Linked DNA regions of Homo sapiens. The protein of the gene in region 1 interacts with the protein of each later gene in a pairwise test. Each region holds a gene or a part of one and is shown in the gene's direction. Other genes may lie near its edges. The genes, in order: PBX4, PKNOX1, CCM2L and PKNOX2.

What was found.
Region 2: the proteins of PBX4 (region 1) and PKNOX1 interact in binary tests that used the Homo sapiens proteins (3 or more experiments, as listed by UniProt).
Region 3: the proteins of PBX4 (region 1) and CCM2L interact in binary tests that used the Homo sapiens proteins (3 or more experiments, as listed by UniProt).
Region 4: the proteins of PBX4 (region 1) and PKNOX2 interact in binary tests that used the Homo sapiens proteins (3 or more experiments, as listed by UniProt).

What each region holds. Positions count from the first base shown.
Region 1 is NC_000019.10:19,594,471-19,602,203, reverse strand, and holds part of PBX4 (pre-B-cell leukemia transcription factor 4), read left to right. Parts: intron 1-2,835; exon of another isoform or gene 2,836-2,838; coding exon 2,839-2,912; intron 2,913-7,733.
Region 2 is NC_000021.9:43,026,238-43,033,970, forward strand, and holds the end of PKNOX1 (homeobox protein PKNOX1), read left to right. Parts: intron 1-2,464; coding exon 2,465-2,637; intron 2,638-3,652; coding exon 3,653-3,864; 3' UTR 3,865-7,694; downstream 7,695-7,733. UniProt on the Homo sapiens protein: Activates transcription in the presence of PBX1A and HOXA1.
Region 3 is NC_000020.11:32,020,124-32,027,856, forward strand, and holds part of CCM2L (cerebral cavernous malformations 2 protein-like), read left to right. Parts: intron 1-2,536; coding exon 2,537-2,672; intron 2,673-5,732; coding exon 5,733-5,796; intron 5,797-7,733.
Region 4 is NC_000011.10:125,391,153-125,398,885, forward strand, and holds part of PKNOX2 (homeobox protein PKNOX2), read left to right. Parts: intron 1-4,822; exon of another isoform or gene 4,823-4,944; intron 4,945-6,721; coding exon 6,722-6,910; intron 6,911-7,733.

The sequences.
Region 1 (7,733 bases):
ACCTCAGCCTCCCATAGTGCTGAGATTACAGGCGTGAGCTACCGTGCCCAGCCTCAGATTCTCTTCTGGGTTCTTATTCTGCTTGATCTCTCAGCAGCATTTCTCACAGATTACTCTTCTCTCCATGAAATTCTTCTCTTGGCTGAGCGCAGCCTGGGCAACATAACGAGACCCTGTCTCTACAACAAATACAGAATTTAGCCAGGTGTGTTGGTGCGTGCCTCTTGTCCCAGCTCATTGTCTCGCCATGTTGCCCAGGCTGGTCTCAAACTCCTGAGCTCCAGCGATCTGCCTGCCTCGGCCTCCCAAAATGCTAGAATTACAGGCATGAGCCACCGATTTTACATTTCGGTAGGTCAGAAAGCCCACATGGGCACAGTGGGCTAAAATCAAGGTGTTGCCCAGTGAGCCCATGGGCTGGTTCCTTGCCTTTTCCAGCCTGTTGAGGCCACCTGCATTCCTTGCTCATGGTCCCTTCCTCCATGATCAAGGCCAGCAACATAGTATCTCTCCAACCCTTACATCATCATGACTTTCTCTGCCCACATCTGGGAAAGGTTCTCTACCTTTAAGGGTCATGTGATGACAGTAGGCCCCCCCAGATAATCCGGGTTAATCTCTCCATCTCAAGGTCCTTAAACTTAATTACATTGGCAGAATTATTTTTCCCATTTTTTGTAAAGTACCATATTTAGGGTTCTGAGGATAAGCATGTGGACCCTTTTGGGAGCCATTATCCTGCCAACCATAGTTCCCAACCCAAGCAAGCAAAAGCCAGAGTTGTCCCCATGACTTTCAAGGCCCTTAGAGTCAATCTCCACTTGCCAGTCTAACTTCTCGTAGCTCTCTCCCTCACCCCTAACACTCAGCAGCCTGGTCTCAAACAGCCAGTACTGAACCCAGTGTGTTCTCACAGGGCCTTTGTGCTTGGCTGTTTCTTCTGCCTAAACCATACCTCTCTCCAGTCCTTTTCTTGGTTGATTTCTCCTTCTCATTCTGATCTCAGCTTTGATGTCACCTCAGAGACATGGAAATTCCAAAAAGCCTTCTAACCATCACTGTCATGTGACCCCAGTTGCCCCAGAGCAACTGCCACGGCTGATGGGTTTCTTGTTGGTGTGTATTTTTGGTGTCTCACTCCCTCCCTCTTAACTGCCACATGTGTAAAAACCTTACCTGTCTGTGTCTCTGATGCCAGAATGGTGTGTGGCACATAGTAGGTACTCAGTAAACACCTGCCAAGTGACACTGGAAGAGGATGATTGGTGCTTCTGCTTAGGCACCAGGATACACCACTGCAGGACCATAGTGTGAACACAGATTTCAAGTTGTTGGACCTTGATATTTCATAGTTCTTTTTTTTTCTTTCTTTTTTTTTTTTTTTTTTGAGATGGAGTCTCTCTCTGTTGCCCAGGCTGGAGTTCACTGGTGCGATCTCAGCTCACTGCAACCTCTGCCTCCCTGGTTCAAGCAATTCTCCTGTGTCAGCCTCCCGAGTAGCTGGGATTACAGGTGTGCACCACCACGCCCAGCTTTTTTGTACTTTTAGTAGAGACGGGGTTTCACCATGTTGGCCAGGCTGGTCTCAAATTCCTGACCTCAGGCGATCCATCCGCCTCGGCCGCCCAAAGTGCTGGGATTACAGGCATGAGCCACTGCCTCTGGCCTTTTTTTTTTTTTCTTAATGACAAGGCCTCTGTTATGCTGGCTGGAGTACAGTGGCATGTTCATAGCTCACTACAGCCTCTAACTCATGGTCTCAAGCCATCCTCCTGTCTCAGCCTCCTGAGGGATTGGGACTACAGGCATACCACCATGCCCAGCTAATTTTTAAATTTTTGAAGAGAATGGGTCTCACCATGTTGCCCAGGCCGATCTTAAATTTCTGGGCTCAAGTGGTCCTCCTGCCTTGGCCTCCCAAAGCGTTGAGATTACAGACATGAGCCACTAATGCCTTACCATAGTTTTTGATGAGTTATTTGCATTGTTTAAACTTTTGCATATAGTGGGAAATGTTTTGAATATTTGTATATTGCTTTACATTATTATTATTATTATTATTGAGACAGAGTCTCACTCTATTGCCTGGGCTGGAGTACAGTGGCACAATCTTGGCTCACTGCAACCTCTGCCTCCAAGGTTTAAGCATTTCTCCTGCCTCACCCACCTGAGTAGCTGGGATTACAGGTGCATGACACTGTTCCTGGCGAATTTTTTTTTTTTTTTTTTTTGAGATGGAGTCTCACTCTGTCACTTAGGCTGGAGTGCAGTGGCCTGATCTCGGCTCACTGCAACCTCTGCCTCCCGGGTCTAAGCAATTCTCCTGCCTCAGCCTCCTGAGTAACTGGGATTACAGGTGGGCACCACCATGCCCAACTAATTTTTGTATTTTTAGTAGAGACAGGGTTTCACCATGCTGGCCAGGCTGGTCTCGAACTCCTGACCTCAGGCAATCCGCCTGCCTTGGCCTCCCAAAGTTCTGGGATTATAGGCATGAGCCACTGTGCCTGGCCAAGTTTTGTATTTTTAATAGAGATAGGGTTTCACCATGCTGGCCAGGCTGGTCTCAAACTCCTGACCTCAAGTGATCCACCTGCCTCGACCTCCCAAAGTGCTGGGATTACAGGCGTGAGCCACCACGGCTGGCCTTTATATTGATTTTGTGCAAATCAAATTCACATGAAATATGATTGTACTGCATTTTCATAAGGCGACTTATCTACAGTCAGAGTGGCAGATCTCGTTTGGTTTGATTTCTCAGTATGGAAGATCTTTACTCTTGGGGACAAGATGATGACTATTCTTTTCTCACACCCTCCTCTGTCACCTCCCTTTCAGAAAGCATGCTCTGAATTGCCATCGGATGAAGCCTGCTCTGTTCAGCGTGCTCTGTGAGATCAAGGAAAAGACAGGTAGGCTGTTTAGAAGACACTTTCTGGCCGAGCGTGGTGGCTCATGCCTGTAATCCCAGCACATTGGGAGGCGGAGGCGGGCAGATCACCTGAGGCTGGATTCCAGACCAGCCTGACCAACATGGAGAAACCCTGTCTCTATTAAAAATACAAAAATTAGCCAGGCGTGGTGACGCATGCCGGTAATCCCAGCTACTCGGGGGGCTAAGGTAGGAGAATCGCTTGAACCTGGGAGGTGGAGGTTGCGGTGAGCCAAGATCGCGCCATTGCACTCCAGCCTGGGCAACAAGAGTGTGCGGTGAGCCAAGATCACGCCATTGCACTCCAGCCTGGGCAACAAGAGTGAAATTCTGTCTCAAAAAAAAAAAAAAAAAAAAAGGCACTTCCTGTGTGTGACTAGAGCTGCGGCAGCACACCTCTGATCTTGTCTCAGCCCTTATGTGCATGGTGGGCCGTTTTGCTCATCCCTTCTGTCTCGCAGAAGACGGCTAGGATGTTTTCTTTCTGCCTTATCATTGCCCTGGTTTCCAGTATGCACACTGATTTATTTTGTAGTTTATAACTGAGAAATACTGTTGCAAATCAGTAACAAGCAGCTGCATTCTAGGTCGAAGACCTAAGAGGTGCTTAGCATTCAGTCATATAGAAAAAGGAAAAATGACAGACTTAGGGAAATTGAATAAGAACAGTTTTGTCGGCTGGGCACAGTGGCTCATACCTGTAGTCCCAGTACTTTGGGAGGCCGAGGCAGGTGGATCACGAGGTCAGGTGTTCAAGACCAGCCTGGCCAAGATGGTGAAACCCCCATCTCTACTAAAAATACAAAATTAGCCAGGCATGGTGGCACATGCCTGTAATCCCAGCTACTTGGGAGGCTGAGGCAGGAGAATCACTTGAACCCAGGAGGTGGAGGTTGCAGTGAGCCGAGATCGCGCCATTGCACTCCAGCCTGGGCAAGAAGAGTAAGACTCCGTCTCAAAAAAAAAAAAAAAAAGGAAAGAAAAGAAAAAGAAAAGTTGAAAAAATAGTACAGAGAGTTCTCGTATCTCCTTCTCCGGGCTTCCTGTCTCGTCAACACCTTCAGAGCCATAGTACAAATATGGAAACCAGGAAATTACGCTGAGTACAATGATCTTTAACTGAACTACAGACCTCATTTGGAGTTCCCCAGTTTTTGCCCTAATGCCCTTTTCTGCCCTGAATCCCACGTTGTATTTAGTCATCATGTCTCTTTGGTCTCCTGTGATCTGTGACCTTGTCATCCATGAATGACGCTGACCATTTTAAGAAGCGCTCAGTCATTTTGTAGAACATCCCTCAGTGCGGTTTGTCTGATGTTTCCTCTAGATTGGACTGAAGTTGTGCATCTGTGGCCAGAGTCCCACAGAGGCAATGTGTGTGTCCTCAGCACATTGTGTCAGGGAAAACATGCTGTCAATATGTCCTGTCACTGCTACCATTGACCTTGATCACTTGGTCAAGGTTAATAACAATTTGAAAGTAGCTTATAAGTGGGGCCACCAAATAAGATGAAGATATTTAAACCAAGGGTCATCTGCACAACGTGTCACTTGATTTCTTAGAGTGAGTTGGTCTCTTGAGGTCAATTATTTGAATTTTGTGTGTCACTTTGGAGCATAGCACTTCATATTTGCTGAGGCTTGTGGAAAGTGTGTGTATATGTTGTACAAAAGTGTGCTTCTTTCTGAACACTGTTTTGGTGCAAGATTGATGTGTACTTGACATATATAGTAGTTGAGAACAGCAAGAGGGTCTGAATTCTGCCTCCACCTCTGGCTGCATGACCCTGGTCCTTGGCTGAACCTTTCTCTGTTCCTGGTCCTCCTCTGATTTGTGGGGCAATAATAATACTTAGCTCATGGTTACTGAGGACTGTTGAGGGCTGTGTGAATTCATATATGTAAGGCTGTGGGCATGGTGCCCAGCCTTCAGAAGAGATCTGGTGACTAAAGGAGAAATTCAAGTTTAAATCTACATTTAAGTTTCGCCTAAATGCTATGAGGACATGATGTCCCTAACCCTCCCCAGTGTAAATTTATTTTTATTTTTATTTTTTGGAGATGGAGTTTCACTCTTATTGCCCAGGCTGGAGTGCAATGGCACGATCTTGGCTCACTGCAATCTCCGCCTTCCAGGTTCAAGCAATTCTCCTGCCTCAGCCTCTGAGTAGCCGGGATTACAGGCGCCTGCCACCACACCCAGCTAATTTTTTGTATTTTTTATTAAAGATGGGGTTTCACCATGTTGGCCAGGCTGGTCTTGAACTCCTGACCTCAGGTGATCCGCCTGCCTGTCTGCCTCCCAAAGTGCTGGGATTACAGGCGTGAGCCATCACACCTGGCCTTTTTTTTTTTTTTTTGGAGACAGGGTCTCACTCTGTCACCCAGGCTGGAGGGCAGTGACATAATCTTGGCTCACTTCAGCCTCCTGGGTGGGTGATCCTCACACCCCATCCTCCCAAGTAGCTGGGACTACAGGCACGAGCCACGTTGCCCAGCTAATTTTTGTATTTTTTGTAGAGAGAGGGTTTTGTCATGTTGCCCAGGCTGGTCTCAAACTCCTGGCCTCCCAAAATGCTGGGATTATGTGTGTGAGCCACTGTGCCCAACCAGGCTCATATTCTGTTCTGCCTCTGCCTGCTTCACCCAATTCTCTAAGGAGCCCTGATTCCTTTCAGAGTAAATCTTGGCCTTTGATGTGCTCATTGCTGTTGGGGTGTTGCTGCTCTTGGACACTCTTAGGACACAGAGCTAAGGAATATTTGTGGGTTATTACAGATGCGTGTGTACACACACACACGTGCGCACACATTCACATCTGTTTTCCTATGTTTTTATATATTAAAAACCATGAGTTCATTATGATATCTTTATTTTTGTTTGTTTATTTATTTATTTATTTATTTATTCTCACTCTGTTGCCCAGCCTGGAGTGCAGTGGTGCAATCTCAGCCTCCCAGGTTCAAGCATTTCTCCTGCCTCAGCCTCTGAGTAGCTGGGATTATGGTGTGCACCACCACGCCTGGCTAATTTTGTATTTTTAGTAGAGACAGGGTTTCATCATGTTGGCCAGACTCGTCTCAAACTCCTGACCTCAAGTGACCTGCCCGCCTCAGCCTCCCAAAGTGCTGGGATTAGAGATGTGATCCACCGCACCCAGCTTATTTTTATTTTTGAGACAGGGTCTCACTCTGTCACCAGGCTGGAATGCAGTGGTGAAGTCACAGCTCATTGCAGCCTCAACCTCCTGGGCTCAAGCAATACTCCCACCTTGGCCTCCCAAAGTGCTGGGATTACATGCATGAGCCACTGTACCTGGCCCACTCCAATATCTTTAATTCTAGTTCACCACAGGGTTCCCACTATTTTTCTCTCTTCCCAGGTTTGTGACTCCTTCCTCCAACAGTGAGAGCCTGCTCCTGTTGTCCTCAGTACTTTTGCTTGTGTAATCAATCTCCCACCTCCTTCACCCCCAAGTATACTTAATCCCCCAGCCAAGCAGACCCCTCCTTGTCCCCACCCCCCAGCAGACTGCTGCTGCTGACAGCCCCCACATGATATGCCCCCTGTTGGTCTCCAACACCCAGTGCCAGGTCATCCTCCCGACGGGGCCAGATGCTGGGCTGTGATGCCCCTGGCTTCCTGCCCACCTCATATGCCTCTCATGGGTATGTAAATATCTGATGACCTGTCTTATCTGTTCCTTATTTAAATTGTGGGGAGCAGATGCCATGGAAATGGAAACACAAAGGTTAGGCTTTCCTGGGGAACCAGACACACAAGTTTCTTGTTAGCGGTGAACTGGTTTTAAGCAAATTTGCCCTCAACTCCCTGGCAGCACTCCCTGATGGTGCTTCAGCATTCGTGTGGTAAGCTGGACAAGCGGGGGCCCTGTACCCGAATGAGCCCCAAGTACTGCAGGCTGAGGGAAGCCGCTCAGAAGGACACAGCCAATGTGTATCCACCCCCTGGAGACACTGGCTGTGGTCACGTGTTTCTTAGTATTGTGGAATTGTGTAATGTTGGTCCCTTTCACTTTTCACCTAATAAAAATAAGCCAGTGTCAGGACCACTTGCTGAGGCATGTGTACCAATAGGCACAGGCAGCCCAAGTTGTCCCTTGCTCACCCCTGACCCTGACCCCAGGAAGCAGCCTTTGGGGGCTCCCCACTGCCCACAGCGGATGTTTAGCAATGCAACATCTGGAATTTAGTAATAATAAAAAACTATTTTAAAAAGTACTTTTTAAAGGCTGGGTGCGGTGGCTCACGCCTGTAATCCCAGCACTTTGGGAGGCCGAGGCAGTTGGACCACCTGAGATCAGGAGTTCGAGACCAGCCTGACCAACATGATGAAACCCCGTCTCTACTAAAAATACAAAAATTAGCTGGGCGTGGTGGCATGCGCCTGTAATCCCAGTTACTCAGGAGGCTGAGGCAGGAGTATCACTTGAACCCAGGAGGCAGAGGTTGCAGTGAGATGACATTGCGCCACTGCACTCCAGCCTGGGTGACAGAGTGAGACCCTGTCTAAAAAAAAAAAGTACTTTAATCAACTGTAGTCTCAGGAAGCTGTCATTCTTGACCTTCCTACCAGTGAGCTGCTGGGGCTGAACGAGAAACCAATTTTTGAGAGTGTGGGTGTTCAGCCTGGGCACGCCTCTTCATAATTCCATCTGCCCCTGTGTGGATGTTACTGCATGAGTCTGTTAGTCTCAAATTCAGCAGTTTCAGGAGGGAAAACAAGAGTTGATACCAACTGTTGCCAGTGCAGCTGAGATGTCTGTCCATTTCAACCGCTG
Region 2 (7,733 bases), on another chromosome or scaffold:
TCTTATCTAGGTTTAGTATCAACTTTTAATTTTTAGTAATAATAACAGTTTAATAATATAACTTAAAAATTCCAAATTTCTGAAATCTTTAATATTTGTAGCTACTTTTACTTTTTGTGACTTTCTTTTCTTTTGTATTTACAAACATTACATCTTGGAGTGAGATACACACACCCATCATTAGTTCATGCCTCTGCTGGTAGCAGCTTTGAATAAGAATGATTTAAAAACACATTACAGGCCAGGCGCGGTGGCTCACACCTGTAATCCCAGCACTTTGGGAGGCCGAGGTGGGCAGATCACGAGGTCAGGAGTTCAATACCAGCCTGACCAACATGGTGAAATCCTGTCTCTACTAAAAATAGAAAAATTAGCTGCGTGTGGTGGTGCACACCTGTAATCCCAGCTACTGAGGAGGCTAAGGCAGTAGAATGGCTTGAACTCGGGAGGTGGAGGTTGCAGTGAGCCCAGATCGCACCATTGCACTCCAGCCTGGGCGACAGGGTGAGACTCAGTCTCAAAAAAAAAGAAAACAACCAACACATTACAGTAGCAGTGGGGCCTTCCCTCCCAGGTCTCGCTGGGGTTGTGGGTGGCCATGGAGCTTGTGCTGCAGGGATCACCAGGTTCCTCTAAATGAAGCATGGCGGGATCCGATCTGCTTCATTATTATTAGACTGTGTGCTAATATAATTGTAGATATTTTTAAATCTTGGACTTTTAAAATTAAGCAACCTTAGAGCTGATCCAGTTCTAGTGTTGTTGTTTTGCAGAGGGGGGCATTAAAAAAAGAAAGAAGTTGTCACAGTGACAAACCAGAGTAGAATCTGAGTCTAAAAGTAATGCTTTTGTTTCCCTGATATCGTGAACATGGCTACTCAGCTATCCAGATAGAGAAGTCTGGCTTTTAATAGATGAGCAATGTGTGACTCTAGCAAGAGGTCAACTACTTTATCATTCATGTTACTGAAAAAAGAAGACAGAAACGAGGCCTTAAGCATGGTTGGTATTGCTGCTTTTGCGTTAGGTTGGGGTAATGCATGAATCTGGACGGGTTCTGGTTTGATAGGCGCTTTCACGGGACAGATGTTGTTTTTCTTTCCGTTTCTTTCCATTTCAGCTCTTTTTGTAGCAAAGTGGCCCAGTCAGTGGCATAGGGTGGTGGGTGCAGCAGAACGCATGTCTGGTTTGCTATCTTTGTCCTCTAGTCACTGCAGGAGGAAAAGCTGGCCTAGGGATTTGAGTCTCCTTGCACTTTCTCACATTTAAAGGCAACAGCTCATAGCATAAGAATGGGAACTGAAGACAGCAGCCTTTAATCTTAATGTATTTTGAGATTGCTATCATACTCATTTGATATGAAACAATGTCCAGCCTGCCTTGCCAACCTGTGACTGTTGGGCCAGGTGCAGTGGCTCACATCTGTAATCCCAGCACTTTCGGAGACCAAGGCAGGCAGATCACAAGGTGAAGAGATCGAGACCATCTTGGCCAACATGGTGTAACCCCGTTTACTAAAAATACAAAAATGAGCTGGGCGAGGTGGTGGGCGCCTATAGTCCCACCTACTCAGGAGGCTGAGGCAGCAGAATCGCTTAAACCCAGGAGGCGGAGGTTGCGGTGAGCTGAGATCGTGCCACTGCACTCCAGCCTGTGCGACAGGGCGAGACTCCATCTCAAAAATACAGAAACAATGTCCAGCCTGCCCTGCCAGCCTGTGATTGTTGCTGCTCTCGTTCTCTGTGGAGTCTTATCACAGGCGTGAGTGCCTGGTCTGACAGAGTCGCCAGCGTCTGTCGGGGATTTCATCACTGCTGGTGCCTACGTGCTGTGCTGGCCACATGTCTAGGACCACTGGAGGACTTACGCCTCCAGTCATCTAAGAAACAGCTCATCATTGGGAATGGTTTTTGAAAAGATGCAGCTCTTGCCTTAGATCGTGCTTTGTGGTGAAACAAGAGGAGGTGGCAGTCCCATTCTCTGATGGCTCAGACACGTTGCCACCCAGAGGCTCGGCCCCGTTGGTGATCTGGTGACGTCCAGACGAGTGCAGACTGCCCGATCGTCTCAGGCATGATGGCACTACAGAAAGTCTTGCTTCTTTAACATTTTTCTTCCTTAGGGAAAACAGTGTCAGATTCACAAATTCAACAGTATCATCTATGTCGTTATGAGTATCTAGTTCACAAACATGCCCTAAAGGAGTTGAGACAAAAAAAAAAATGCCATGGACGAGTTGGTGCTTATTTGCATGATTTTTAAAACAACAGGCTCTGTGTTTCTGGGCATTTAGAGAATTCAGAAGAGCTGTTGAGTCCTCTTAAGTAGTTACTATAGTGGAGAACTTGAGTCATTCTTTGTAGCGTGCTTCGTAGAGCAGCGTGTTTGTTAGAAGGATTTGTTAATCCTGTATAGGGTCTTTACGAAGGCTGTTTTCATGGAAGCTTCTCTTTGTTGACTCCAGGTTCATCAATGCCAGAAGACGAATTCTTCAGCCAATGTTGGATTCAAGTTGTTCAGAGACCCCCAAAACAAAGAAAAAAACTGCTCAGAACCGGCCAGTTCAGAGGTTTTGGCCTGATTCTATTGCATCAGGAGTCGCACAGCCACCGCCGAGCGAGCTCACCATGTCGGAAGGTACAGGTGGCCGGCCAAGGCCAGACATGGTGGACCATGGGGTGGGGATTATGAACAAGAGGCCTGGATCAGGCCTGTTAGCTGTGAGCCTCAGGTAATGTGGTGAACGAGAGTGCGTGGTTCTCTTTCTCTGCAACTAAAACATGAGGAAGCTGCATTCTGCGTGCACGGGAGCTCTCAGTAAGAGTTAGGAGCACCAGTAGTAGAGAATGTAAAACACGTGATAGAGATATGAAATCATTAATTCTGTCTCAAAGACACAGTCATGCCCATGGATCTTCTCCTTTGCTTCTGTGTTTGCTCTCCTTTTCCCTCCGACGCCGGGTGTGGAGGAGGGACTTACCCCGTTCTCACCACGTGGCTTCTTTCTCTTCATCCCCCATGCCCTTCTCTTGTTTTTGCTTGTTCCCTGTGGCCTCTGCTCTCCATCCCCTGACGTAGGCAGCCATTCTGATGTGTTTTATAGGCATCTTTCTGTTCGCATGAGGTCTTCATATTTTGGATGGTTTTGTGTGCATGTGTTTTTATTTTTTTTTATTTGTTTGCTTTGTTTTTTTTTTTTTTTTTTTTTGAGACAGAGTCTCACTCTGTTGCCCAGGCTGGAGTGCAATGGCGCAATCTCGGCTCACTGAAACCTCTGCCTACCAGGTTCCCGCCATTCTCCTGCCTCAGCCTCCCGAGTAGCTCGGAGTAGCTACAGGTGCCTGCCACCACGCCCGGCTAATTTTTTGTATTTTTAGTAGAGACGGGGTTTCACCGTGTTCACCAGGATGGTCTTGATCTCCTGACCTCGTTATCCGCCTGCCTCAGCCTCCCAAAGTGCTGGGATTACAGGCATGAGCTACCGCGCCCGGCCCAGAAACAGTTTCTTAAATCCCTGTTGAACATTCCCTAAACATATATAGGTGTTTTATTTTAACTTTAGGTCAAACGAGCAAACAGCACCCAATTGAGTAATAAAGTGTTTTTCTGTGAGTACTAATTTAAATAATGACACACCTTCATCCTGCCGCAGGAGCTGTTGTCACCATCACCACGCCCGTGAACATGAACGTGGACAGCCTTCAGTCTCTGTCCTCGGACGGGGCCACCCTGGCGGTGCAGCAGGTCATGATGGCAGGGCAGAGCGAGGACGAGTCTGTGGACAGCACAGAGGAGGATGCGGGTGCCCTGGCCCCTGCCCACATCAGCGGGCTGGTCTTGGAGAACAGTGACTCCCTGCAGTAGGGGCAGGAGCAGACGCACCTGACTTTTTGGAGTTTGCACAGCAAACATTTTACACAGTTTTATTTCTAATATGTTTTATATGTAGATATAGAAGAGTGCACTTTTGTATTTCATAGTAAGCTTAAAGCGCGTCTTTGCCGGTGCAGCGACTTCTTTCAAGTGTGTGTGTGTGTGTGTGTGTGTGTGTGTGTGCGTGTGTGCGTGTGTGTGGATTTTTAAAGAAATTCTTTAAAGGTTTAACGCTAGATTGTGAGGAATGACACACCACTCCCTCCCCACCTTGAATCCCTAATTAGATTAAGGAATAGCGCTGCCATTTTCTAAACCGTGATGCGGTTGTCACTTAGTTCTGTGGTTCCAGCAGATCTCAGTGGGCTGGTTGATTTGTGTGGCCCATGGATTTGAAAGAAGCTGCTGCACCCGAAACTGCCAGTGTGCGGTGACAACGGCACACGCCTAGACTGAGTGTGGTTTCGTCGTGAGTGGATGGACGGCAAGCTTAGCAAGCCTAAGTCCCCTCATGTTCAGTGAGCCTGTTTCATTTGCTATATAGAAAAAGAAACTCCTATTTTTACCTTGCTGGAATTATTGGATAAAAAAGCTATTTTTATAAATTCGTTATGAATTGGATGATGACTATATTGAGGATAAAATTTCTAGAGAAGAAACAATACATGCTTGCTATTAATATTTCAATTTGGAATGTTCTGAATTGACCAAATTTAATGAACCTGCCCAAAGTTAGCTACCGTTCCATGGTTCTTTGCTCTCCCCGGGTAGTGATGAACATTTACTACTATAAAAGAAACAGCTATTTAATGAAATTTTGATATCTGCAAATTTTTGTTGATATGTAATGCTCAGATTGCATTTTACACTTGATCTAAACATATATCGAAAGATATCTGCTAAACAGGACTTCAGGTAAGTGAGGTGAAATGGTAGCCAGTGACCCGTTAGGAGCTCTCACCGTACATACTCCAGTCTAATTTAAATCTGACCACAGTTGCATGGTCGCTTTACCATGTTAGCTGTGTATTGTTTTAAAAGTTTTAACTTCAAAATATGTTATGCACAGAATGTTTATTATAAACTAATATAAAATGTGCTCTACCCCATTGGCTCAGAGCTAGGGCAAACAGCAGATATTCAGACTTTATTACTTAACTAGCGGACATCCCTGGAGTCCCAGCAGCGAGCTGGTCTGGCGAGGGCACCTCGGCAGCCCCCACGGGTTGGCTCCTACGTTTGCGTTTGTGGCTGGTCTCCTGGTGTCAGTGTTCTCTTGTACGTTGTTGCTTTCGACTTTTCAGAGCCCTCCTGCTCACTTGACCACGTGAGATTTGGAATAACTGTAGGACTTCTGTTTCCTGGTAACAAGATGAACCGAGAGAGTGGGCTGGGTTCTGTTTTCTTTGGTTTTGATTTGTTTTCATTGTTTACTTAGGAGTGGTGCTTTTTCTCAGAAAACAGGCCACGGTGTTTCATACAGAATGTCTTCATATCATCTGAAATGGTATGGCTGAAGTTCATTTGTTTACAGGGTCGGGAATGTCTTCAGTTCTTGAGAGTCAACAGTAATGATTGGTTGTAAGCCAAGGGACATTTTAAGCTAGTGAAGAGTTTTTTCTGGAATTGATTTTTCCCAAAAGAATATATTAATTGAGGTTAAGAAGTCAGTGGGAAACACACAGAAATTTGTTTTAAAATCTTTCAGGAGCTTTACTGAAAGACTTGGTTATCAAGTCTTTTGGGGAGAGAATGACATTTTTTTTTTGAGACAGAGTTTTGCTCTTGTTGCCCAGGCTGGAGGGCAATGGTGCAATCTCAGCTCACTGCAACCTCCACCTCTTATGTTCAAGCAATTCTCCTTCCTTAGCCTCCTGAGTAGCTGGGATTACAGGCATGCGCCACCACACCCGGCTAATTTTGTATTTTTAGTAGAGATGGGTTTCTCCATGTTGGTCGGGCTGGTCTCGAACTCCCGACCTCAGGTGATCTGCCTGCCTCAGCCTCCCAAAGTGCTGGGATTACAGGTGTGAGCCACCGCGCCCGGCCGAGAATGACATCTTAAAGCCACCATTGCGTTCCTCATTTGTGAACTGTCTTCTCATATTTTAAGTCAAGTCTATAAGATCATTTTTAACCTAAGTTCCAACTTTGTTGGACTCCTTAAAATAAGCACCCATGAAAGCCAGCCAGCCCTTCCTCCTTCCCTCACCACCCTCCGTCTCTTCGGCTGCTTGCTCTTTAGTGTAGATTAGTGGAAGCCATTCACAGAATGTAGACTCATGTATAGGTCACCGTTTCTTTCCCCCACTAGAAATCACATTCACTAAGCAGTGGATTGAATTTAAGAGTGCTGCCCCTGCCCGGCGCAGTAGGGCGTGCCTCTAGTTCCAGCTACTCGGGAGTCTGAGGCAGAGGATGGCATGTGCCAGGAGTTTGAGGCTGCAGTGCACTATGCTTGCACCTGTGAATAGCCACTGCACTCCATCTTGGGCAACACAGTGAGACCCCCATCTATAAAAAGAGAGCACTGCCTGAACCTCGGTGGCACTGGGAAGCTCTGGCCTGAGAGTTAAACACCCATGCTGAATGATACAGTGTGCATTCTCTCCAGCTGCAAACTTTCTTCAACTTTCCTAAATTCTTACTAAATTCAGAGGAATAGGATAAAGATCACTTAGAGAAAGGGTGCTTATGGACATAGCCTGAGTTTCCTTTAACCTCTCTGCAATGGGTGCTTTTAACTAGCTTCTACATGGCAAGCTGTTTCAGTTTGCAAAATCACTGCCCAGCATGTTTGAGGTCAGTTGGCACCTTAAAACACCTGTTCTCCAGCCCTTGGACAGTGGAGAGAATCTGTAAAAGTGTGACCCCCTCTAAGATTTCGTTTTAAATGATCAGATTCGGTTCCAGTTTTATTCTTGTTGAGTTTTTCCCTATGAAGGCTCCTTTTGAATGTGTCTTGAGACCCAAATTGAGCATGTTGCTGTTATTCCTGCCCTGCACCTGTGGAGCAGGAGTGGCAGGGCTGGCTGTGCTGGGTTCCAGCTCGCTCCCACCGAGGGACTAGCTTGGCCTTTGCGCTTTGATTCCAGATAGTAAGATGAGTGGAAGTGTTTATCGAGCATGCAAAAGAAACCCTCACGGCTAAGGGCTCTGGGAGTTGTGTCTGTGTGACCTGAGAGTGATCCATCTCCTGCCTGTGTGAGGTAGCAGTGGGCACTTTTCATTGAGACAAACTCCAGGGTGTCCAGAGGGGGTTCTGCCCCTTGTGAAGGCCCATTCCTGGCACTTAGAGACAGAAAGAACTCAGCAATCTTTCGTTCTAGTTATATTCGGTCTTTGAAACTGACAATCTTTGAAATGTGAATACTGTAACAATATGTTTTCTTGGATTGTTGTCTTTAAAAAGGATTTTTGTGAAGCAATTGATTTATCAAAGCAAAAAAATTAAAAATAGAAACTTGCTTTATGGATGTTTTATTTTATAAAGCTCATGTCACCAAAAGCTGCTTCTCCATTTTATGTAAAACATTGAGAATGTTTTCATGTTTTCTGGTGACATGTAGGGTCTGTAGTCACCCCTGCATATTGAGAAACTAGGACCACACTGCATCGGACTAGTCAGGTCCATTTACATGTCCAAGAATCTTTTCTTAAATTCCTTACTTTGTTCATTCATTGGCTGTTCAGGCAGAAAATGGAAACAGGTAGCTTTTATGTTTTTTATTATAGTTTTCCACAAATCTAATTATTTTGATAGTTACAAGAAGATAATGATTCATCAGTAAGCTAACATAATCCCTTTCATAGTTCATATTATAAATTTTCATGACAAGAAAGTTCCTGAAGATTTAAAA
Region 3 (7,733 bases), on another chromosome or scaffold:
GTCCACCCTTAGGGAGCTCACAGGCGAGCAGACACCTTCAAGTTCTGAGCATTCTAAGCTTTTCCTCTGATCTTGGACCACCAGATCCCTCCGTATAAAAACAGTGGTGAATGAAACAGACATAGTTCCTGTCTAGATGGTGAGGCAGATAATAACCAGTAAACTCAGACACCACAGCTGTCTCTCTCCCCTTGAAACACTTCCTCACTTGGCTTCCAGCTCTCCACCTTTTCCAGGCTTTTCTCCTACCAAGCTGGTTCCTCCTCTTCTTCAGAAGTTGGAGTGCCCCAGACTTTGTCCTTGATCTTCTTCTCTCCTCCATCTATCCTTCATCTACCCATTTCTAGGTGATCTGCATCTGAAGATCTAACGACTGTTTCAAACCCAACACATCCAAAACTGAGCTCCAACCTCCTCCCCCAAAACCTGCCACTCCCTTGGTTTCCCTGTCACAATTAATAGCAGCTGTGTCCTTACATTGGTCAGGCCAAAACCTTGCTGTGGGCCTTGGCTGGCTCTCACGCTCTCTCTTTCTCACACACACCCCATATCCACTCTGTCAATAAATCCTGTTGGCTCTTATTTTTAAAACATAACCAAGCCTGTAATCCCAGCACTTTGGGAGGCTGAGGCGGGTGGATCACCTGAGTTGAGGAGTTAAGACCAGCCTGGCCAACATGGTGAAACCCGTCTCTACGAAAAATACAAAAATTAGCCAGGCATAGCGGCGGGTGCCTGTAATCTCAGCTACTTGGGAGGCTGAAGCACGAGAATCCCTTGAACCCAGGAGGTAGACCGCACCACTGCACTCCAGCCTGAGCAATAGAGCAAGACTCCGTCTCAAAACAAAACAAAAAAACATCAAAATCCATTTACTTCTCCCCACCCTCCCCCTGTACCCACCCAGGTCCATGCCCCATTTTCTCTCACCTGAATCATGTGGTCATCCTCTGACTGGTTCAGCCCTTGCTGACAGTCTCTTTCCCCACACAGTCAGAGTGGTCCCGTTAACATGAAAGCCACATCATGTCACTACTCCACATCTTCCAGTGGCTTCCCATTTCACTCCAAGTAAAAGCTAACATCCTTACAATTGCTTACAAGGCCATTTGTACTCCAGCCACCATGCCCACTTCCTCTGTGGCTGGAAATAGGATTCCAGACAAAGCTAACAGTCATCCCACTGGACTGTGAGGGCTTTGCGGTACTGAACCTGGCCCAGTGTCGGCCACATAATAGGACTAAGTTGGAATTTGTGGAGTGAGTAAATAAGTGTAATCCCAACACTTTGGGAGGCTGAGGCAGGGAGATCACTAGAGCCCAGGAGTTCCAGACCAGCCTGGGCAACATGGCAAAACACCGTCTCTACTAAAAATACAAAAAATTATCTGGGCGTGGTGGTGTGTGCCTGTCATGCAGCTACTCAGGAGGCTGAGGTGGGAGGATCACCTGAGCTCAGGAGGTTGAGGCTGCAGTGAGCCATGATTGTGCCACTGGGCGACCGGAGTGTGACTCTATCTCAAAAAAAAAAAGTTGCTTTCCAGGGTTGTCTGAGCATCTGGCTTCTTATCTGAGTCATCCTGGTCCTAAGAAGGATATAGGAGTTAGAGTAAAAAACAACCTGGGTGCTGGTACTAATGCCATGAACCTGCTGTGTGAGCCTAGGCAAGGCACTTAACCACTCTAAGTCTCAGCATCTTTGTCTGTCCATTTTGTAGGTCTATGGTAAGGATCACCTGGTTTAATTATTAGGACACACCTACTATCCCCAAATGCCTATCCTGGGTTACGTTTTAATTTATTCTTTGGGCTTTTTTATTTTTATTTTTTGTATCCAACCATCCATTGTCTTGGGCCTTTTTACAGACACAACATAGAGAAAAGGTTCATGAAGACAGTGTCTTCATCAATTACTGGTTTTCTGTGTGTCTTGCTTAAGGCATAAAGAGGTAAATTCAAGAACTAAATACCTATTCACATTTGTAGTCTCAAAAAAGTTTTACCCAAGAACTTAAACTCCTTCCTTCTATCAGAGATTGAATTTTATTTATCCTGTTTCCATTTTCACACTGAATGCTAGGAAGCTCATATCTAAATATGGCTTCCAGTATTAGTAACTATATTGAGCCTAAAATTTTGATACATTTAATCATCCCTTCTCCTACTAGGTGTTAGGAGAACTGGATTCTAATCCTGACTAATCACTTCCCCTCACTGGGCCTCCGTTTCCATATCTATACATTAAACTAAATTAGGACTTATCTTAGAAGGGCATCAGGAAGGCTGATGAATCCTCCACAAATCTGGGGTACATTTTTCATGGCACAAGAGTTAGAGTTGTCACTGAATTCTATAAAGGGGTTCTAAGATCCAGAGAGTAGCCATCGAATTTTGATGGAAAAATTCTTGAAAGCCAATTTAAAGGGCTCTATAGGTGTGTATCTTTGTGCGCATCTTCACACACTGTTTTAGGAAGCAGGGTAACATCTTGGTCATTGGTGAGGACCTGAGCTCTCTCTCCTCCTCCCTGGGCCAGGACGCTGCAGAGGAGTCCTGCGCACTCATCTGTCAGGTCTTCCAGATCATCTACGGGGACCAGAGTATTGAGTGTGTGGACCGGGCTGGCTACCACTACACATCCACACCTGAACGGCCATGGCTCTGCAGCCGCAGTGAGTACCAGAACTCCTGGCCTCCCCTCCTGTGAAACATCCCAAAAAGGCCAGGGGAGGGAAGATGTCCCAGGACTTGGGCTGATGAAGGTATTTAGGGCTCCTGATCTCTGCCATAATTACAGTGTACCCCACAATTGTAGGTGAAATGTCAATTTTCTTTTTCTTTTTCTTTTCTTTTTTCTTTTTTGAGACAGAGTCTCCCTCTGTTCCCCAGGCTGGAGTACAGTGATGCCATCTCGGCTCACTGCAACCTCCACCTCCTGGGTTCAAGCAATTCTCTGCCTCAGTCTCCCGAGTAGCTGGGATTACAGGCATGTGCCACCACACCCAGCTAATTTTTTTTTTGTATTTTTATTAGAGACGGGGTTTCACCGTCTTGACCAGGCTGGTCTTGAACTCCTGACCTCATGATCCACCCGCCTCAGCCTCCCAAAGTGCCGGGATTACAGGCGTGAGCCACTGCACCCAGCCATCAGTTTTCATGATGATCTCAAACTTAGCTTCTTCAAAGATGTTTGGATTGTCAAATTCAGAACAAGCCCCCTAGAGCTGAACTCTTCTCTCTCCCTTTTGTTTTTGTGTCCCTATATTGCAGCAACCTAAGCACATGTATTGTCTGCTTACTGAGCCATTGGTCCCACTAGGACCCTAACACAAAACCAAGATTTCCAGATGGGTGCTTGGATGCACTCAAGGACTAGAAGGAGAATGAGACTAATAGAGACATTTGTTGAGCACCAGTTGTGTGCCAAGCACCGTACCAATGTGCCATGTCCTCATAGCAACCTTGCCTGTCCTCTTTGTCACTGTATCCCCTGTGCCTAGCACGAGACTGGGTACATCAGATACTCATGAAGTATTTTTCTGAATGGATGAAAGAACTCTCTGAGGCCTTAGGATTCCCATTTTTTCGTTTGGTTGGTTTTTGTTGTTGTTGTTGTTTGTTTGTTTGAGACGGAGTCTCACTCTGTCGCCTGAGCTGGAGTGCAGTGGCACGATCTCGGCTCATTGCAACCTCTGCCTCCCGGTTCAAGTGATTCTCCTGCTTCAGCCTCCTGAGTAGCTGGGACTACAGGCATGCGCCACTACGCCCAGCTAATTTTTGTATTTTTAGTAGAGACGGGGTTTCACCATGTTAGTTGGCCAGTGTGGTCTTGATCTCTTGACCTCGTGATCTGCCTGCCTCAGCCTCCCAAAGTGCTGGGATTACAGGTATGAGCCACCGCGCCTGGCCACGATTCCAGTTTTACAGATGAGGACATTAAGGCTCAGATTAGTCAATAAATTACTCAAGGTCACACAGCTGGTAAGTGGCAGAGTCAGGATTCAAATCCAGGTCTGTCTGATTCTGAAGCTTCTATCAGCAACAACCTTATTCCCCATGCTGCCTTCAGGCCAGTGGGTGAATTCCCCAGCCATTGTCTCCCACAGCATGGTACCAGCAGCAGAGTGCTCGTTCTTTTCTTCAGAAGACCCTCGCATCTGTGGGAGCTGTGCTTGTTGGGAGGCTGGGTTAGTTCAACTCTCACAAGGATGATAGGCAAATAAATGAGATAATTCAACAAATATTTCAACAAATTCATTCATTTAGCAAATATTTATTGAGCACCTAGTGGGTCAGATCCAGTGCTAATCAGTAGGTTATTCTGGTGAGCAAAACCAGAGGTGGCCTGTCTTCATGAAGTTTACTTAGTGGAGGCAGGCTGACAGTGATTAAATAAGTACACAAATAAATACACAACCACAGGTTGGGCACAGTGGCTCACACCTGTAATCCCAGCACTTTGGGAGGCCAAGGCAGGTGGATCACCTGAGGTCAGGAGTTCGAGACTAGCCTGGCCAACATGGTGAAAACCCATCTCTACTAAAAATACAAAAATTAGCTGGGCATGGTAGCAGGCACCTGTAATCCCAACTACTCGGGAGGCTGAGGCAGGAGAATCACTCGAACCTGGGAGGTGGAGGTTGTAGTGAGCAGAGATCACACCACTGCACTCCAGCCTGGGCGACAACAGCGAAACTCTGCCTCAAAATAAATAAATAACCACAGACTGTGCTGGGAGAATGTATAATGAGGAACTGGCCCCACCTGGAGGGTAAGGAAGCAACACTGATCAGAGATCAGAAATGGTAGGGCTAATAACCAGCTAAATGAGACAACAGGACTAGGAAGAGCGCAAGCTCTCCGTACTTGGTGTTTCTTTGCTCTGAAGGTTTTCAGATCCTTCCCCTTCACAAGTTTCTTCCTCTCTTTCTTCTTCTTTCTTTCTTTCTTTCTTTCTTTCTCTCTTTCTTTTCTTTTCTTTTCCTTCCCCTTCCCCTTTCTTTCTTTCTTTTCTTTTCCTTCCCCTTCCCCTTTCTTTCTTTCTTTCCTTTCTTTTTTCCTTTCCTTTCCTCTTTTTCTTTCTTTCTTTTTTCCTTTCCTTTCCTTTCCTCTTTCTTTCTTTCTTTTTCTTTTCTTTTCTTTTTCTTTTCTTTTATTTATTTTTTTTCAGGGTCTGGCTCTGTCACCCAGCCTGGACTGTAGTGGTACAATCACGGCTCTCTGCAGCCTCGACCTCCCAGGCCCAAGCAGTCCTTCTATGTCAGCCTCTCAAGTAGCCGGGACCACAGGCATGCACCACCGCACCCAGCTAATTTTTTTGTTATTGTAGAAATAAGGTCGCTCTATGTTGTCCAGGCTGGTCTTGAAGCCTGGGCTCAAGCAGTCCTCCTGCCTTGGCCTCCCAAAGTGCTGGGATTACAGGCGTGAGCCACAAATTTTTTTTTCTTTTTTTTTGTCTTGCCTGAAACACACAGTTTACAAAATATTCCCTCACATGTTTCCTCATCTGCTGTTCCCAAGGCTCCTATGAGGTAGGTGGGGGGTGGTATTGTCCCCACATCGGGGAAGTTGAGGATCAGGAGAGGGGAGGGGAGTTCCCCAGGGTCTGTTGTGTGTTGGTGTCAGAGGCAGGACTAGACTTCAGGCTGAGACTGAGGGTGGGGCCTCAGGGAGCAGGGGATGCTGATCCCTGCTTTGCTGCCTCTGACAGTCCCTCTGTCTGCTGGTCCCAGGTGAGAGCTGCCACACAGATGGGACGTATGCCTATGATGCCGACTTCAGCTGCTGCAGCTCCTTGTGAGTACAGCCCCTGTCAGGGACTCCACCCTGCTCCCCTACCCCTGCACAAACAGGGTGACTAGAGAGGGTAGGAGAAGGTGACCCAACCTTGATGTGTGCTGAGACACTGGGCACTAAGAGGGGGAGGTAAACTGAGCTCCCTGACTCTGGAAACCCACAGGATCCAGACCCTTGAGAGACCCAGGAGACACCAGAACTCAGATGTGGGTCCACACAGTCCTGTGGTTCTCTCCCAGTCATCCAGGCACAGTGGTCTGCAGAAACCAAAATCATAGCTACATGCCAAAAAAATTATCTTGGCTTAATTTTGGTTCCATGTAATAGAAAATCCCCAAAAAGAGTATCTTAAGCAAGATAGAACTTTTTTTTCTTATATTTGACATAAAATAGAGCAGCAATTCAACATTTCATGGTTGTTAGGAGCTCAGGCTTCTCTTTTCCTTCCCTACCCTCTTCAGGACTTGCAGCCATCCTCAAGGTCACCTCATGGACCGAGATGGTGGTTGTAGCTCCAGCCATCACAGTAGCATGCTAAGGGGCCTCTTTAAAGAGTTTTGCCAGATTCCCACCTGATGACTTCTGCTTATATCTCATAGGCCAGAACTTGGTCACATAGCCATCACTAGCTGCAAGCAAAGCTGGAAAATTTAGGATTAAAAAAATATATTTCAGGCTAGATGCGGTGGCTCGCACCTGTAATCCCAACAGTTTGGGAGGCTGAGGCAGGTGGATCGCTTGAGCCTGGGAGTTCCAAACCATCCTGGGCAACATGGCGAAACCCCATCTCCACCAAAAATACAAAAATTAGCCAGGTATGGTGGCGCACACCTGTGGTCCCAGCTACTTGGGAGGCTGAGGCAGGAGAATGGCGTGAACCCAGGAGGCGGAGCTTACAGTGAGCTGAGATTGCGCCACTGCACTCCAGCCTGGGCGACAGAGCGAGACTCTATCTCAAAAAAAAAAAAAAAGAAAAATTCAGGCCAGTCATGGTGGCTCACGCCTGTAATCCCAACACTTTGGGAGGGCAACGCAGGAGGATCACTTGAGCCCACAAGTTTGAGACCAGTCTGGGCAACATAGGGAGACCCTGTCTCTATTGAAATAAATAAATAAACAAATAAATAAATAAAATTTTAAACAATTCAGTTGGGAACATTACCCAGGGTTCTGTTTAGGGTGACCAGCCATCCCAGTTTGCTCAGGAATGAGGGGTTCCCCCGGATATGGGATTTTCAGTGCTAAAACCAAGAAAGTCCTGGGTTACTGGTTGATCACCTAGTTATATTACTAAGGGCTTCAGTTTGGCATGTAGCAGTCTCTGCCAGTGATATATGTCTTATTGTTTCTTTCCTTTTTAGTGGCAATAGATTTGCCTTCCTCATACTGTATGCCCTTAGGCTAGTCTTTAAACAACCAGATATCTACTGAAGAGATAAAATAGTGATAATAGCGTTTGAACATTGAACTTGCTATGTACTAAGTGCTGTTCTATAAAGCACTTTATTTTTTCATCAACATAGTAACATTACAGCAGCTACTGTTTATTGCTTATAGCCCATAATTCTAAGTGTTCTACAAATATTAACTCCTCTAATTCTCATGATGACACTAATTATTATTATCCCATTATACAGATGGAAAAATTGAGAAATAGAGAAATTAAGTTTAGTTTTCCCAAGGTCAAGCACCTAGTAAGTTGTAAGTATGGGATTTGAACAGAAGAAGGCTGGCTCCAGAATCCAGTCCTTTAACCACAAAGCTACACGGCTTCTTTGTAGGTAATAATGGAGGATGGTTCTGGAACAATTTAGAGACAAGGAGGCAGGAGCCTAAGGTTGAGTTTTTATTAAGCAATATTTCTTGAGTACCTCCTATGTGCCAGGCACTCTGCTGTGTGCTGGGGATACAGATGGACACAAGACAGAGGGCAAAAC
Region 4 (7,733 bases), on another chromosome or scaffold:
CAAAACAAAGATGCCTCCCTAATTCCTGCATGGAGCTGAATGGGTTCCGTAATCTCTGAGCCTCAATTTCCTTATCTCTAGGAGAGATAATATTGCCTGTGTCCCTGTGGTGACGAGACTCAAATGAGATAATGGAGAGAAAGCACTTTGTAAATTGTAAAGTGCTGTGTATACAAACGTTTTGAAAGGCAAGAAATTATTATTATCAAGTGGAAAGGCCACGATCCTACAAGAGAGGCACACTGAGAGAGGCATTTGATGGTGGAGGGAGGACCATAATACCACAGTGGTATGAGGAATTGACATTTCCTGAATGGCTACTATATGCCCAACACATTTGCATACATGATCTTATTCAGTTTTCACAACAACTCTGAAGTGTAGGTATTATTGTCATCCTAAATTTTGCAGATAAAGTTCAAACTACTTGTTCAAAATATCAAGGCAGAAAATAATCAGTGTGGGACATCAGACGACATGGCTTTATAGAAAATAAGAAACCCCATTTTTGTGTACTTTCCTGGGACTGTGAGACTTGTGTACAGTGGTAGGAGACTAAAATGTGAGGTTGCATTTGTTTTGCTTTTTTGATGCAGACTTCTTAGAAAAAGAGGGCTGAATCATTATTTTGAAAGAGAAGGGAGGGAAAGAAGCTGAAAGATGGAGCAACACCTGGGGAGAGGAATTAAGGATGCATTCACCACATTTGGCGGTGATGTTGAATTAAGTGGCATTGTTATTGCCCTAGAAGATTTGGAATAAATTTTCACATGACCCCGATCATTTAGAAAAATAGTTTAATAAATCAGAATTTTCTAACTTGGAGACAAAAATCCAAAATTGTAAACACAGGATAGAGGATGATTTACTAAACACAAATATGGGAGCAAAAAAGACCCTTGGAGTTACTATTTTTTCACTGGCTGGACGTAGAATAGCAGTAGAAAAGCCAATGGGATATCAGACATTATTAGAAGAGATTATTTTTACAACTTGCATGCATTTGGTTTACTGTGGTTTATAAAGCATGTTTACATCATTATCTCCTTTAGCCCCTTTCAAATCTTGTGAGTTAGAGATGAACATTATCCCCATTTTACACGTAAAGAGACTGAGGCTCAGAGAAATCATGGAATTTGCCCAACGGCACCCAATTAACAGAGAGCGGGCTCGGACTCAAATCCAGGCTGCCTGACAATGAACCCACAGTGTTCCTGCCCTGCCAGGCAGCCCTCTAACATTGATAGTGTTGCCTACCTTTCTAATATTGAACAGGTCCTACATATTCATTGCCTCAGAATACCATTATGATTTACTCTACCTCCTTAAATCTTTCAACCAATTCCATTAGCCCATAAAAAAGTAATCCTTCAGCTGCACTTTATTAGACCAAAGGATAAGTCCACTTTTGGTCACTGTGCACCAGACCTGGTTTAAACATGCTGTGCGTGTATTTTATTTGAGCAAAGCTCTTCTGAGTATATTTTACTTTTGTTTTACTTACCTGTATTTTCTGATTTTATAAAGTAAGTATAAATTGGTTATATATTTAAAATAAATGAATAGGTAAGTGCACTTTTCTCTGTGTATGTGTGAATATATGTATGTGTGTGAGAAAGAAGGAAAAAAGGAAAGAAAGGAGGGAGGAAAGAAGGAACGGGGAAGGGAAAGAGAAGAAAGGTTTAAGGAATGACGATCGTTTTTGTCTAGAAAAGAGAAAGTTTGGCCGGGCGCGGTGGCTCACGCCTGTAATCCCAGCACTTTGGGAGGCCAAGGTGGGCGGATCATGAGGTCAGGAGATCGAGACTATCCTGGGAAACACAGTGAAACCCTGTCTCTACTAAAAATACATAAAAAAAAAAATTAGCCCGGCGTGGTGGCGGGCGTGGTCCCAGCTGCTTGGGAGGCTGAGGCAGGAGAATGGCGTGAACCAGGAGGTGGAGCTTGCAGTGAGTCGAGATCGCGCCACTGCACTCCAGCCTGGGCGACAGAGCAAGACTCGTCTCAAAAAAAAAAAAAAAAAGAGAGAAGAGAAAGTTAATTGAACAACTTGTTCAAGTCAGATGCCTGGTCCAATATGTGGCATATAGTAAGACTCAATACTTGTTGAATGAATAAAATTAAATTAAAAAGAAGTTGTGTTGATAGAGGTCCTAGAAGTTCCTCGATGTTCTTGGTGCCTACAGAAGGCACTTTACATTAAGGCGGGAGAGATTTTGATTGAATATAAGGAAAAGCTTCTAATCAGCAGACTGAGAGAATATGGAGAAGGTCCGAGGCAACAAGGTCATCGCCCAGTGACCGGGAGAGGCTGGAGGAGAAGATGCAGCCTGTGTCCTGATGAGTTTGGACTGTGCAGCCACCTAGAGGCTGGTCCAGGTCACCGTGTGGGGTTCATTCTAACACCATCAGGCGTGAATTGAGGGCAGAAGTCCTGGTAATGTTCAGAGAGTCAGAAAACGTAAGGGACCTGACAGTCCAGCCCTCTCCGTGTGCACATGGAGAAGCAGGCACCTGTGTTGGTGAGGTGTTTGGACCCCGGGGGGCTGTGCCAGGAGTGAGAGATGGGAGATCAGAGCAGCTGAGAAAAGGCACATTACCAGGAAGGGTTCTGGAAATCCTAAACTTTGATGTCTCAAAAGCTACTTGGCTTCCTAGAACCCCGTACTTGCTGTCACTGAGCCACTTTCTCCCAAACCACGCACCCTTTATACTACCACTTCCTCTACCTACATAATCCTGAGAGTCCATATTGAAAGACAAGGCACACGGGTGGGGGGTGGGGCAACCTGGCTTCATATCGCTCACCAGTTGTGTGACTCTAAGCAAGGAAACGTAATATTTTTGGATTTTATTTTCTTCAAATGCAAAATATGAGCAATAATGGTACCTACTTAATGAGATGGTTGTGTGGAATAAATAAGGCCTGGAATGGGCTTAACACAGTGCCTGAGACACAGTCTGAATAAGAAACGTTTGGGTATTATTAACAATCCAGCAACGCATATGTGTTAAGTACCTTATCCTGTGCTCATTACACTGAGAGACATAGACCAAGATGTTCGTGGCCAAAGTCAAGTAGAACATTAGGCAAGAACAAATCTTTATTAAGTACTTAACTCCACTTTGGGGTCCAAATGATCCATTCTAAAGTCACAATTTTCCTCTTTGCTTAGGATGGCTCAGTCTCCCTCAGTCTCAGCCCCACAGAGGTGGTACTTCTTAGGAGGAGACCTTGTGACTGAGCCCTGCATGACGACACACAATCGCTGCTTTCTGTCTTTGAGTGACACTTGGTCTAATTTAGTACTCCAAAAACCCTTAATTAGTTGAGCACAATCCCTGCTCATCAGACAAGCCACAAGCCCAGCCCAGGGAATGTGGGCTCCCCACTTGAAATGCCAATGAGGCTCAGAGAAGGGTGTAATGCTGGCTTCAAGCCACACTTCTCTACACACACCTCACAGTCACAATTCTCTGGGAGAGATTTCCTTCCTTGTTTCCATCCCTTTTTATATTGTCCAAACTCTCCTCTAGGCATCCAGGAGCTAGCCAAAAGCTAGGAGGGTGGGACTAAAAAGAGATCCCATATATTGCTTGCGTCAACATAAATGGATCTGGAAAAGCAATAAGCATCACCCGCTCCTAGCGGTTACATTTAATTTTGATATAAATGTAGATTCACATGCAGTTATAAGAACTCATACAGAGAGCTCCTGATTCACATCTTGTATAACCATAGCACAATTTCACAGCCAGGAACAATCCACCAACTGTATTCAGATTTCACCAGTTTTACGTGCCCTCGTGTGTGTGTGTGTGTGTGTGTGTACATGTAATTAGTTCTGTGCAATTTTATCATATACTTAGATCCACATAAACATTGTTATAGCAAAGTACAGAACAGTTCCTCCCTCCCTCCTCCACTCTACCGCTGTCAACCACTAATCTGTCTTTCTGTCTTCCATCTCTATAATTTTGTCATTTCAAAAACGTTTTGTAAATGGCATCATATAGTATATAATCCTTTGAGACTGGCTTTTGTCTCTCAGGAAAATTCCCTTGCAATCTATCCACATTGTTGGGCATATCAATAGCTCATTCTTTTTTATTGCTGAGTTATATTCCATGATATGGATGAATTACAGTTTCTTTATCCATTCACCCATTGAAGTACATTTGGGTTGTTTCCGATTTTTGACTATTAGAAGTAAAGCTGCTTTGAACAATTTGTATACAGGTTTTTGTAAGAACATATGTTTTTATTTCTCTGGGATAAATGCCCAAGAGTACAATTGCTGGGTCATATGGTACGCACATATTTAGTTTTGTAAGAAATTGTCATACTGTTTTCCAGAGTGGCTGTACCATTTTACACTCTTAACAGCAATGTCTGAGTGTTCTAGTCTCCAGTTCCTCACCAGCATTTGGTGTTGTCATATTTATTTCTTTTATTTTAACCATACCAATAGGTGTGTAGTGATATCTCATTGTGGTTTTAATTTGCATTTCCCTAGTGACTAATGACATTGAATATCTTCTCTTGTGCTTATTTGCCATCTGTATATCCTCTTCAGTGAAATGTCTAATCATGTCTTATGACCATGTTCTAATTGGGTTGCTTGTTATTTTACTGTTTTGTTTTGAGAGTTCTTTATATATCCTAGATACAAGTCCTTTGTCAGGTACTTGGTTTGCAAATATTCTCCTCCAGTATGTAGTCTTTTCCTCTTCTTCACAGGGTCTTTTGAAGAGTAAACATTTTTAATTTTGACAGCGTCCAGTTCCTCACTGGATCATCTTTTTTTTTTTTTTTTTTTAGATGGAGTTGCGCTCTGTCGCCCAAGCTGGAGTGCAGTGGCTCCATCTCGGCTCACTGTAACGTCCACCTCCTGGGTTCAAGCGATTCTCCTGCCTCAGCCTCCCAAGTAGCTGGGACTTCAGGCATGCACAACCACCACTGGCTAATTTTTGTAATTTTAGTAGATATGGGGTTTCACCATGTTGGCCAGGCTGGTCTCAAACTCCTGACCTCAAGTGATCCTCCTGCCTCGATGTCCCAAAGTGCTGGGATTACAGGCGTGAGCCACTGTGCCCAGCCTGGATCATGCTTTTGGTGTCAACTCTAAGATCTCTTTGCCTCACCCTAGATCCTGAAGATTTTTTCCTGTTTTTTTTTAAGAGGTTTATAGTTTTCTGTCTTACATTTATGTCTTTGATCCATTTTGAGTTAATCTCATCTAAGGTATGAGGTTTAAATCAAGATTCAGTTTTTTTGCATGTGGATGTCTAATTATTCTAGCACCATTTGAACAACCCCCTGTTGAAAAGCAATTTGGCAATATTTATCATAATCCACAAGAACGTTCATAGCTTTTTTTCCTGTCACTTCTGGGAATTCATCCTAAAGAATAATGCAGAAACTTTTAAAAAAAAAAAAAAAAAGCTATAAGCTTAGAAAATATTCACTGTAACATTTTTTATAAAATTGAAAAATTGGAAGTAATCTAAATACCTAACAATAGGAGACTGGTTAAGTATGGCACACACATGAAATAATATGCAACATTTAAAAATATGTTTACTCAATAACTTTCACCCATTCAGCAAATGTTTACTCCATATCCATATGTGTTCGTGCTGAAGATAACATGGTGAGCAAATTAGACATCATCCCTGCCTTCTCAAAGCTCATAGTCTAGAAGAGAGGATAGAGAAAACAATTCTGGCACTTAGAAAAATAGATTTGCTAAACTAGAGGGAAAAAACAGAAAACAAAATTGCATGCACAAGGTTATTGAAACTATGTTAAAATATATGGGTGTAGGAAAAAATCATTCTTTAAGGCGATTGGATCGAAGACAGGTTTTTTTCACCCTGCTTTCCATACCTTCCATAGTATTTTCTTTTTATGATAATAACAGCAGTAAAGAGCAAAGCTTCAATTGCAAAATAGCTTCTTGCCACGAAAAGGTTAGGAATGTCCATTTGAAGAGGCAGCAGGCTCCCGTACAGCAATCCAAAGGGCATGGAAAAGGCCACAGCAGACAGTGAGGTAGCTGGTGCCCAGCTAAGTCATGCTGGATTATTCAGTCCATCAGCAAGTATCCACAGAGCGTCCACAAGGTAACCGGTATCCCATGAGGCACTCAGAATGCTTGTTTAAGAATAGACAGTCCCTGAGCTCTAGAGGCACTTATAAGAAATTCTGATCTCCATCTTCCTCAGGCTTGCCTGGTCCTTCACACCTCACAATGTGCTACCATGTATACGCCCTCATACAATACTCACAACAAACCTGTAAAGTTGTCAGGGAGAATCTAATTATCCCCATTTGTTAGCCACTAAGGCACAGAGAGCTTGAGCAACTTGCCCAAGCTCACACAGATAGTAAATGACAGGCCGGGGGCTTGGACCTGGCCTCCCATCGCTAAGGCCAATGCTGTTCTCAGAATACCACAACTGCCTCAAGAACAGCTGTGATAACAGAGGGCTCAGAGCAAAGGAATAATTAGCAGAGAGCCATCATTAGAACTGAAGTCATGGGGATGAGAAGGCACCGCCTACCACTTCTGGGCCTTTTGGCCAAGATCAAGTGTAGGAAGCATGAGCTACGGCAGGGGGTGGGCTCCCCTCCCCTGGGGTGGTGGGGGCTGGGGGTCCAGGCAGTGAGGGAAATGGGATGCAAACACCTGGGCTCACCTCTCCTCCCTCTCCACAGATGGTGAAGGCAATCCAGGTCCTGAGAATCCACCTGCTGGAGCTGGAGAAAGTCAATGAACTCTGCAAGGACTTTTGTAACCGTTACATCACCTGCCTCAAAACCAAGATGCACAGCGACAACCTGCTCAGGAATGATCTAGGGGGGCCCTACTCCCCCAACCAGCCCTCCATCAACCTTCACTCACAGGTAACACCCAGAGCTGGGTCCCATCTCTTAAGCCAGGCTCCTAAGCCCAGCTCTGGAGCCACGCGTGGAGGAAGGTCCCCTGGTGACCTTCACTGGGTTAGACCCACTGGGTTCCTTTGCCATGAGGGCCCTCCTCTGATGCACTCTTCTTCATATCCATTAGGCCATCCCATCCCTTTTTTACACACAGTCTGCCCTGCCAGGGCATTAGTATTCCCTTGAAAATGACCAGATCGGAGAGGGACAATGTCCAAAATCATTCCTGGCTTCCTGGCCCAAGGTATCCCCCAGAATGAGCACCAGAGCTAAGGAGAAGGAAAGCTCTCCTGGAGGATGAGCTGGGACAGGCTTCTTAAGAGGCTGCGGCTTGCTGAGCCATCTGCATTTCTGGGAAAGGGCATTTGGGGAAAGCAGTCATTCCCTGAATCCTGCCCACCTAATGGGTGAAGCCAGCTTCCCATGGGCCTGCTGCTCCCTAATCATTCTCCAGGCACTCACGCTACTCTGGCATCTCTGTCCCCCTAAGGTTCAGGGCCATGGTCAAGGTCACCTCAAACCACCCTGTTCCCAGGTTCCCCTGCCACCTCCTTCCTGAGACCTGGGAAATGCAGAAATGCTGACTACACGCTTTGGGCAAGATGGGGTTTCCCCTCCAGGGCAGGATATTTTCCCCAAACCTACAAACCGAGAAAGCTGCCTGGCAATACCTTCCCGCCCAACTCACAGACATCTGCATAAGCCACAGGCTTGAGACTTTGTTCCCCTTCCACTGAGCTCCTGAGTCCTGGAAGACACCTGGAGGGTCCCCAAGGAGTCCTCTGTA